2 separate regions of the Homo sapiens genome follow, and region 1 is linked to region 2. The links come from fine-mapping of genetic effects on gene expression. Tissue or cell type: esophagus muscle. Region 2 holds a variant in brackets; the other region holds the start of a gene. All regions are shown on one strand. Distances are between the middles of the regions.

Region 1 (5,389 bases), 53 kb after region 2:
TCCATTCCTAAAAATATAAACACACATAGTTGAACCCATTAGAAGCAATAAAGGTGCAGAAATAAGAAAGAGAGCAATAGACGCGGAAAAATGGCCAACTGTCTTGTCCTCGCTGTTCATTATCCTTCTCCCATTTCAAGTACCTGGCTATTTCAATGTATTGTTTCCACCCTTGTAAGAATAAGGTGCATTTTGTCTAGTGAGGCTTCTCTTTGTTTTGCTGGGTCAAAACTGGGAGAAAGTATATGACAAGAGATGAATTATTCTATGATACACTATTTTTTTCCCCTCCAAATGTACAGCCATGATGTATTTTCTGTTAGTTGCTTGGTCCTTAAAATCTAATTTGCTTAAGTCAATCCCAAACTAGAAAAGGAGAAAATCATAAAGATATGGTCCTTAGTCTTCTAATTATCACTACGAGTCATCTATCTTCTGCAGCCAGAGCCTCCAAACTGAGGAATCCACTGAAATGAAGACATGTTGACCCTAAATTCTAAATACCTTTTGCCACAGCATCACTATATCACTTTCCTTAGGTAAATGAGGTTGGCTTGGGTTGAAAATGTGAAAAATTAAAGAAAGTATTAAAGGAATCAGTCAATCCCCTTCTCACCCCACTACTACTGCCCACCCCGTCCCAGCCTCTGCCCAATTCCTGGCTTAAAAATGATCATCTCTTCTACCTATCTGGTGAATGATTATTGTTCTCAACCACTGCACTTTATATATATTCTCTGTTTTAATCCATCCCAAGACCCTCGGAGGTAGGTTTTAACATTCCCATTATACGGCTTAGAAGAATAAGGCCCTAAATGGAAAATAATGCCAAAGGACCATGTCAGTCAACAGAGTTATTTAACAGAGCCCATGCTAATCCTTTGTTAATACTGTAAATTACGGAACACCTTAAAGACTGTATGGATTCAGAACTCCTAAGATTTTTGAAATTTAAAATTTAAAAATGCATACCTGTTTTTTCCTTGAATTTGCTTTGGGAAATAGGTCTGCTGACAACACAGATGTAAATGGAGAACAGCATAGCTCAGGAAAAGGGTTTGGAATAGATGGCATTTCCGGAACATCAAGATCTTTCTTTTTTCTCCTACAGTAAGAGAACATAGGATGTAATTTACATAAAACAGAATGTAAAATATAATTGCTGTCAGGAATAAAAAGTGTGCTAAGGCGAACATGTACCACTCTGTGACAAGGCTCATATTATATAAAGTATATAGAAAAGGTCTGTGATGTACTTTCTATGGGTCAAAATACAGTATGTTAATTAGATACAAACAAATCTCCTATAGTTCCTCTCTTTCTGTCTCTCTCTCTCTCTCTCTCTCTCCCCTCCCACCACCCCTCCCCCCCCCACCGCCTTCTCTCTCTCTTGCCTTTAAATCACCAGGCATAGAAACTCCATCACTTTTGATAATTTTCCTGAAACAGAAAAATAGACTATACAATTACTAATCCAAACATCACCTGAGAAGTCATACATTGTTATGCATCCATGATATTGACAGTCTCTAAGTTGCATTTAGTGCATTCATCCTTATGATATTTTACTAATCACTTTTGGAAGTTATGATTTATTAATTATAGCTGTGGTTCATCTCACTTCAAATTTCATTCACAATGTTGCCCACACACAGTCTGTTGATTTTTCAAGCGCTTATAGATATTAAACAGCAAGGCAGTGTTTTGAGGCGGTAAGTTAATAGAACTTGCTAGTATAAATGTACTATAGTCCACTGGAGAGTAATTTTAACTTCACTGAAGTTGGAGCGCTTTGAAAATCAGGAAAAAAAAAGTAACATTTAAATGTATGAATATAAAGGACTATAGATTTTTGTATTGCTGTAACCCTTTTTCTTTCCGAAAGTATGTGCAACTCTAAAGGCACTTAGTGCTGAATGCTATGGAGATTGGGAAACCCTTTAAAGCCTCTATTCTTTCCTGCCGAACAGCAAGACTGCTCGAATGTCAATCCATGCTTTGCTTCTACAGGGTCGCTGTAAGACTCTATGTGGGAGGTGAATACATTTATGCTACGATTTTTTTAAAATATATAAAATAAAATAGAGTTTACTTTGTGAAAATGCATGGCCACGAAGGAACAGAAGGTGATCAGCCTGCAGCCTGAGCTCCTAGTTTCACCACCGATGGGCAGAGGCGAGAGAGATGAGAGCTCTCAATGAAACGGTGATGCTATTTATAAGGCGCTGTGAGATCGCAATGTCCTGCTGATCCGGTAGGAGCCAGCTCAAAGGGGATTGTCTTCAGAGACTTTTACAAACTTGGCCCAGCTCTGGGCACATGGCTCACCCCCTAGGACCGCCTCCTCACCCCCTCGCCGGCTGCCCAGCCAGGACACTCCCCCGCGCCCTCCAGGGTTGCCTACCTGTCTGCAGCACAGCCGCGGGTCCCGTCCGGAAGGGGCAGGAGCGCTCGCGCGTGCAGCCAGGGGGCCGGCGCCAGGTCGTGGGCGTCGCCCCTCCCCTGGGCAGCGCCACACACCTGGGCGGCCAGCGGCGAATCCCGGGCAGCCGCCCTGCTCGCGGCGCTCTGCCCATCTTGCAGGGAAGTGGTCATTGTCGCCGGCCGGGGGGCTCGGGCGTCATGGGAGACTCGGCGCGTGGGGAGAAGGGGTTTGCGCGGCGGGAGGCGAGGTGCCGGCTAGGCAGCCCGAGCGCTCTGCAGGTGTGGTGGCCTCGCCGCCTGCGCTCGGGGCCCCGGCGGCTGAGACGCGCGGCCGAGCTATCTGCGAGGCGGCGGGGGAGGGGAGGGGGCGGAGGAGGAGGGTGGGGAGAGGGGAGGAGCGGCCGGTGGGTGGGGGCCGCGGGCGGCGAGGCAAGGCGCGGAGGGGGCGGGGAGGGCGCGAGAGCGGCTGGCCGGCCCCGCGCGTGGCCCGGGGCGCTCGGGGCCACTGGCATTGCTCCCGCGCCGTCCCATCCGGGACGCGAGGCCGGGACCGCTGCCTCCTCAGGTGGGCACCGGGGCGCGAGGCTGAGCCCAGGGTCTGGGCGGCCCCGGCGCCGCTGGAGGCGGGGACCCAGCCGAGCGGGCGCTCCCGCTGGGCTTGCCGGGAGGACCGCAGGCGGGATAGGGGTCCGCGCAGCCCTGACCCTCATACCCTTGCATTCTTTCTGCTCTGCCATCTGAGATCACCTAAGCTGTTGCTGGGCCGCCATGACAGTCCCCACCGGGCCAGGAGGCCAGGACACCAGAGGGTTTGCCCCAGTCCTTCCCCACGTGCCTCTTCTTCCATCCACTCCGCAGCCAAAGATTGGGGGGTTGATAGGGAGCAAGGAGTCCAATCATTATAGAAAACTACTGAGATTTTGAGAATTCTCAGTAAAGCATGAGTAAACCTGAAGGTGTCTGGAATTAGAAAGACTATTAGTTTTATGGTAATGAGAGAAGCTTACATTAATGAATTCCAGGTTGCCTTACGCTACCTATTCCATCCTCTCAACAGCTCCATAAATTAGATGTTTATCTCATTTTACACAAAAGGAAACTGGGGCTCAAAGCCATCGAGTACCTTGCACTAGTAACATAGCACTAGTAGCTGGTGGAGTCAATATTCCAACCCAGAAGCTTCCTTCTCAAAAACCCAGACTGTTCGAAATAGTAATGACATTATTATGCTCACCCTCTGAGATGCAGCAACCCTACTCTGAAATGCTGGGTGATCCTGTTTCTGCTCTTCCAGTAAGTGTGCCCGTCCCTATGCACCGTTGAGGATTTCCAAATGTTTCACAGGGTCTTTGTTCTTTGACCAAATTAGGTAATATCTGTCCCTGGCATCTGCTTTACCAGGTTTTCTTAATTTCAACAACCTCTGCCCAGGGAAAGGTAAACACTGCCTCCAGAAGAAAGCAGCAGCTCCCCTCCCCCATCTCAGTGCATTCTCTCCCACCGAGGCACCGACCACTGGAGAACCCAGGGGTCACTAATTCCCAACCTGTGAGGAAACCTGGGGCACTCCGTGAAGACAGAAAATCCTTGAGTCACAGTTCAGGGAATCCAAGTTCTTTATTTTCCTAATGTCAAAATTAAGGCCCAGAAGTGACCTGGGTCACAGCGGGTGTGATCTCTGGGATCTTTTATACCAGGGGTCCCCAACCCCTGGGCCCTGGACCACACCATACCAGTCCATGGACTGTGAGAAACCAGGCCGCACAGCAGGAGGTGAGCGGCTGGTGAACCAGCATTACCGCAAGAGCTCTGTCCCCTGTCAGATCAGCTGGGCATTAGATTCTCATAAGAGAGCGAACCCTATTGGTGAACTATGCCTGCCAGGGATCTAGGTTGCTCCTTATGAGAATCTAACAAATGCCTGATGATCTGAGGTGCAACAGTTTCATCCCGAAACCATCACCCCCACCCCATCCGTGGAAAAATTTTCTTCCATGAAGCCGGTCCCTGGTGCCAAAAAGGTTGGGGACACTGCAGTTTATACAATACTTTGGCTAAGCTAGGACAAAATGGTGATTCTCTTTCTCAGGAAGAAAATAATAATACTAATCATGGTGATAACTAACATTTATTGACACATGTGCCAGACAAAGCCCTCACTCACATCCAGTTCTCTGAATTACAGATTCTATGCCTGAGTTTAAGTGAATTTAATTTAAAAGCATACAGATATACTGAGGTTATTCCAGCAAAAAACAAATGAGGTATGTAGTTGCAGACAACTTGAACTAAAGAAACAAAGAAATAAGTAAACTTTAATCATTAACATCATTATCCCAATTTTATCCAGAACTCTTGCAGGCAGTCACTTCTTCTAAGAATAATATAGTTGAGCACATGAATTAGTGGCTGAAGTTTACACTGTCTCCACTCCCAACAACACTCTCTCTCTATCTCTCCTCCTCACCTCCTCTCTCTCTCTCACACACACACACACACACACACACACACACGGCGGGGGTGGGACAGAGAGAGAGAGAGAGAGAGAAAGAGAGCACACTTTTGATTTTTTTTTTTTCTTGGGGAAAGGGATAGGTGGAATCTGTATATGTCTTTGGAATCACTGGAAATGCTATTCCCCAATGGTGCATCCTGCTCCACATCCTAGCATAATTGCCATAATTTCTTAACCTCAAGAAAGAGTATTCCTTGGCTGGAAATATATCTCTATTTTGTCTCCCCTTTCCAAGCATTCTCCTATTTAGTGGAAATCCAAGGAGGGTCAATTTGCAGGCTTTATGCTCGTCCTCTGACCCCAATGGGTAGACATTGTAATCCTTGAGATTACCAGGGGCAAAAAGAAAAGGAACAGGTCTCTGAGAATGAGAAACTAAATAATTTTTTCTTGTAGATTGGCACTAAATGTTAAATTTACTCCCAGTAGTACCTTGAGAATCTGTACCAA
Region 2 (5,389 bases):
GAAGTCACAAGATCTAGATTCTATTTCTAGCTCTGCCACTGACCTTCTGGGTGACCTTGCATAAGTCACTCAACACCCAAGAGACTCAGTCTTCTCATTTGAAAAAGTAAAAAGCTACAACCTAGTGATGATCTGAGAAAAATGCGATGAGGTAAAAGATTCATTCACAATGTTTGCTGAGGATGTGATCGTTTCTGAAGCACATGAGGAACGTTCTTCACCAGAACCTTAATTCACTTAAATCAGAGAAATCAGATCCTAATAGAATTTGGAAGTGAACATTTTCTTTCCAATTTACTTGATAGAGAATCTACCAAAATACCTTTCTTCTCAAAGATCAAGGCGTACTTTCTCTGCTACAAAATAGATCTATACCACATGAAGGGCCATGTTTAAAATTCAAGTTCCTAAGCACTACCAGAGACACTTACAGCCACTTGGATCAGACACACTACCTGATAAGAAAATTACTCCCTATTGCTACGGAGCATTTTCAGAATGCTCTCAGCCTTTTAAATGATTAGGATTCCATTTGATAAATTATTTGTCAAGGGCCACTCATTCAGGATGAGTGAACTTTACACCAAACCTGTGGAAAAAGCACCTGCCTTCATGGGAAAATAAGTTGCTCCCCAAATTCTCTGAGAAATGCTTGTACTGATTTATAAGATCATTTAAAATTATGGCATATATGGAAAATAAATTAATTACAAGTATGAAATAACTTCTTATATTGGAAGAAAAAATTAATCATGGTGTGACCAGGGCAGATGGATGATTTTTAAATCAGAAAATACCCAACTCCTAAAATAAAAGACATTAAGATCTTCAGAACAATCAAATGGGTATTTTCAGAGTTAAAATATCAGGAGAAGCACATAATGGTGTGCTAAATTATATAAACACCAAAATATGTGCACTCACTGAAAAAAATAGCATAGACTTGAGTCTAGGGAATTTTGACTTTTATAAATATTATAACAGAAACTTGACAAGAAGCTTATTATTAAAATACCACGATAAATCACAATGAGGTGACCATTGGCAGCTCAGATGTAACATCAATAATAACCACCGCTTTCCAGAGTAATCTTGTTTTCCTACTTGGCAAACAGTGCTAGAAGTTATTTTTCTAGCCAAGTTTTCCCATAACCAATTTCCCCTAGGCTAATTGTTCAAACTCCTTGAAAATTACAGCATTCTTTCCTAATGTTTTATAATAATTCTAAAATAATAAAAATAATTTACATATTTTACTATAACCATGAAAATATAAAATATTTGGTTCACAGAATTATAGACACAAATAAGACTGAAGATATTATTTACTGAAAACTCCTCAGTTTGTTATACAGATGAGGAAGTAAAGACTCCAAGAGTTTACTGGATTTGCCCAAAGTCACAGGGCTAGTAAATGGAGAGTCCAGATAGTACATTTTCCATCATACCAACATGTCATCAAAAACAAACCATATGATAGAAGTTTCTTAGTCAATCTAAACTGCAATATTAACCGGATAAAGAAGAATTCAAACATGAGAACATAGACTTGATAAATGTTAATATGCCTTTTCACATCCTCAGTGAGTCCAGGAACCTATATTGTCATTATTAATGCACTGCTAAGTCCAATTCCAAATAAAAGTTAAAACCCAAAGCAAAATATTTTTAATTAAATTTGCTTACAATTAGCAAAAGGCCTCAAGAAAGATAAAGAACTCATGTTGGCAAAATTATCATATAGCTGTTCCAATGCCAAATAAAATATTCTCAGTAAATAAATGGTTGACTGGATAAGAAAATAAGCTGAAAATCTAAAAATTAAAAATAGTAAAGAGGCACTTCGTTTTTAAAAACTATAGCCACTTTAACTGTTAGATTTGCCATGTTTCAAATAAATTGCAACATGACCTTTGACTTAATGGAATGCACTGATAGTTAACAGTTAACTATTAAAAGTTGAGTTCAAAAATAAACACTACAGTTTCTAGTGTCACCAAAACCATTTGGTAAGCATATTGCCAAAACTGAGTTTTAGTGCCTTCCTTCTCAATGCGACAGATTTGATTCTTTAAGAAGTCCAGTGCAATGTTCTTATTTTGGAGAGTTACAAGAAAAGTTTACTATGACTACATGACATGGTTGCATATACCACCTTGTAAAATGCAATGCTGTAAGTGAGACATAAAAATAATCTTTACAAAAAACTAATAAATAAAATATTTTCATACACAGGATTGACTGCATTAATAATTAACAGAAAGCCCTTTCACAGGGGAATTTAATGGAAAGTTTTTCTTAAGCAAATACGCAGAAGCTCAATAGAAATGGGTAGAAACCTGAGAATAAACTGGTAACACATGTTTAAACAGTAAAATAATTGTATAGTCTATTCAACAATGAAGAGATTGATATATTATGAATTATGGTGAAACAAAGAAACTATTCCTTAGTAAACAAATATAAGACATAACAGCAGATTTCCTACTGAGCTAAAAACAAAGAGGCTTGAAGTTACAGTAGAAAGAAAAAAAAGGAAAAGTTTCAATACAGTCTCTAAATCACAGTGACCTGAAATCGAGATCAAACTTCTTTTAGGTGAAAGTTTTTAACTATAGCGATGTCCTAGCGCAGTATTATTTTTCCTAGTTCAATTCCAATAATATGTCCTTTAATTTTACCTACAACTTTAATGAATTATAGGCTCTTTCAAGGGTATGTAAGTAAAGCTTCCTATGTATTAATAAACACACAGTAACAGGGGAAAAAAAGCAGCAAGAAAAATTAAAGAAAAAAAGGATAAAGAAGTCACATACCCTTTTCTGTAG[A/G]ATTATTGGCGTTATTGCAGGCAGAGTGACTCTTCTTGCACTCAAACTCATGCCTGCTCTTCTTAGAATGATCCTGTCTCGTAGGTCATGGACAAAATAAAAGAAATCTTTTATGGTTACTCCTTGGGAATCTCAGGGCTCAGTGCAATGAAACAACTAGGAAAGTAATAAATGTCACCCTGCTTATGTGATTCCAATCTACCCAAAGCCAATTAAGGATGGCTGTGGGACAGGACAAGGCAGCAACCAATCAAAGCCCGGAAAACCCCGCCTTTGTCCTTGGAAACACATTCTGATACTTTTGTTTATGATATTTAAAGAACCAGATTAACAGGCATCTAGTTCGCTCAACTTTTTTTCCAAAACAGTGCAATTCAATGCCATCTTTGTTGACTAGGCAGTTATGTCTTTACTAAAGCATTTCAACATATGGCAGATAAGAATCTGTTTACATTGGTCTATTTAAAGTATATAAATATATTAATGAACTAAATTTACTTATGCTATTCATAAAATTGATGAAGAGATCAACTGGAACATACACAAGGCACAAAAAATAATCCTGAGGTTAGAATTGGCACAAAGTGTTAATTTCTATGGTATAATAAAAGAGTTTTAATATATATTAATATCTTTCATTTCCTAAACATTAAAATTTTTGTATTATAAGCCTTCCAGCTATCCTTGATATCACACACTGTTAAATATTATTTTAACAATAAACCTAAATAATAGTATTAAATACAAAGAGGGGATTAAACTACAATATATCAATCTCAAATACTTATGTTTTTAAAAAGCACAAATGTGTGTGATGTAGCATATTTCATTCCATTAAAAGCATTTAAAAAATAACCACTGCCAAAACTTTCTCAAAATTTTAATGACCATTTTGCATTTCTTCTCATAAAAACTGAAAAGTTTATTCTAATGTTTCTAGGGGAGGGAGGCTGGAGGAGGTTTACAATGGAAAACATCTATAACTAACAAGAAAAATTTCAATGAAGTCTAAATAAAAAATGAAAGAAACACTCAAAAATGACAAAAAGGATTGCAACGTTAAAACTAATCTGAGCTTTTACAATTGTAAAATCTCTTCTGGACTGACATCTGGACAAGCTTCACTGAACTGCTCAATGCTCTTCAATCCTGACCCACTGCCTTCAGCGGGAGAAGAACTGGTAATTTCCAGATTACAATGTGGTTGTTGTAGTAACAAGGCAAAATGGAAGATACTCAGCAACACAGACACAAACTTTCCATTTCGTTATCTTGACTGCTACTAGGCAGTGTTCACTTTACTGCTTTATACATAAGTGAGTTTAATATGCATGGTGAGCTCATATTCCTCAAAAGAAAAAAGAGACACTACAACTCCAAGGATCCCTGCTTTGAATTTCAAAACCAAAAATCCCTCAGAATGGTAGTTGGGAGTGGCAGTAATGCGCTTAATATAAAAAGTCACAGATCTATTTTGGAGGCATTAATTAATTTGATCCTTATCCAGTTAGGTTTATCATGATCTTTTAAAAGAAAATTACCAAGAAAGCAAATACCAACTAATACAGCGATGGGGGGTTAGCATTTGTGAAGTAAAAGATTCTGTTCTAACCTTGAGCTACTTTTCAGCAAGCCAACAATAACAAAGACCATGGTAACAAATAATTTCAAGAATATCACCCATAATATTTGGCCTTATCTGTCTTCTTTTCTCAATTTAGCCTTCAAATATTACAAAGTGTTATCTCTGCATCCTGGCTAACACTGTGAAACCCTGCCTCTACTAAAAATACAAAAAATTAGCCAGGCATGGTGGCACGTGCCTGTAGTCCCAGCTACTCGGAAGGCTGAGAGGCAGGAGAATTGCTTGAACCCGGGAGGTGGAGGTTGCAGTGAGCCGAGATCGCGCCACTGCACTCCAGCCTGGGTGACAGAGCAAGACTCCATCTAAAAAAAAAAAAAAAAAAAAAAAAAGTGTTATCTCTGGTCTCAAAAATTTTACTGGGGTTCCATCATAATGAAAGTAATTCATTTCACTAAATTATCAAGCAAAGTACTATTTGCCAAACCCTGTATCAGGCAGTAGGAACACACTATTATTAAGACAGTTAAGGTCACTGTCTCATAGTGGAATAGAGATATTAATTTTTAAGTTAAAATATCCCATTCAGTGGTAAGTTGAGACTAACAGTGATTAAATGCTAAGTATCAAGGGTGCACCAAGGTAGAAGCAACTGCACAATAGGGGTAAGATCAGGGCAGGCTGCAAGAAGGAAACGGCACTTGCTTTGAAAAGTGAATAGAGGTGAGGAATATGCAGAACTTGAAAACTGATGTGAACACAGGGTCAAGGTCTCAAAGTTTACTCTGAGGTTTGAAGTCTAGATGATGGGGAAGTTAGAAATGCTGTTTTGTATCACACCATAAAGCCTGTTAAACACTATGTATAAAATGAACGCTTCAATTCAAAACAGTATCCAGGTCCTGTATAGATTACAGTGCAATATATACATGCCCTAAAAGGGCTTAAAAACACTTAATAGATGACTAGCTGTTTACGT

Evidence for each region. PIP is the estimated chance that this variant, and not a neighbour inherited with it, causes the effect. A credible set is the group of variants that fine-mapping cannot tell apart.
Region 1: GRB14 starts here. The variant in region 2 is the best candidate, but not a certain one, in a credible set for the expression of GRB14 in esophagus muscle (GTEx, PIP 0.52).

What each region holds. Positions count from the first base shown.
Region 1 is chr2:164,618,715-164,624,103 of GRCh38, forward strand. It overlaps GRB14 (growth factor receptor bound protein 14), which reads right to left and starts at 2,768. Exons shown (of 14, transcript NM_004490.3): 1 at 2,405-2,768; 2 at 973-1,105. The coding sequence starts at 2,595.
Region 2 is chr2:164,565,499-164,570,887 of GRCh38, forward strand. All of the region lies in intron 2 of GRB14 (growth factor receptor bound protein 14), which reads right to left. Among named protein-coding and RNA genes, the nearest start is that of GRB14, 53 kb to the right of the region's middle. The variant A/G (reference allele first, on the strand shown) is at 2,829.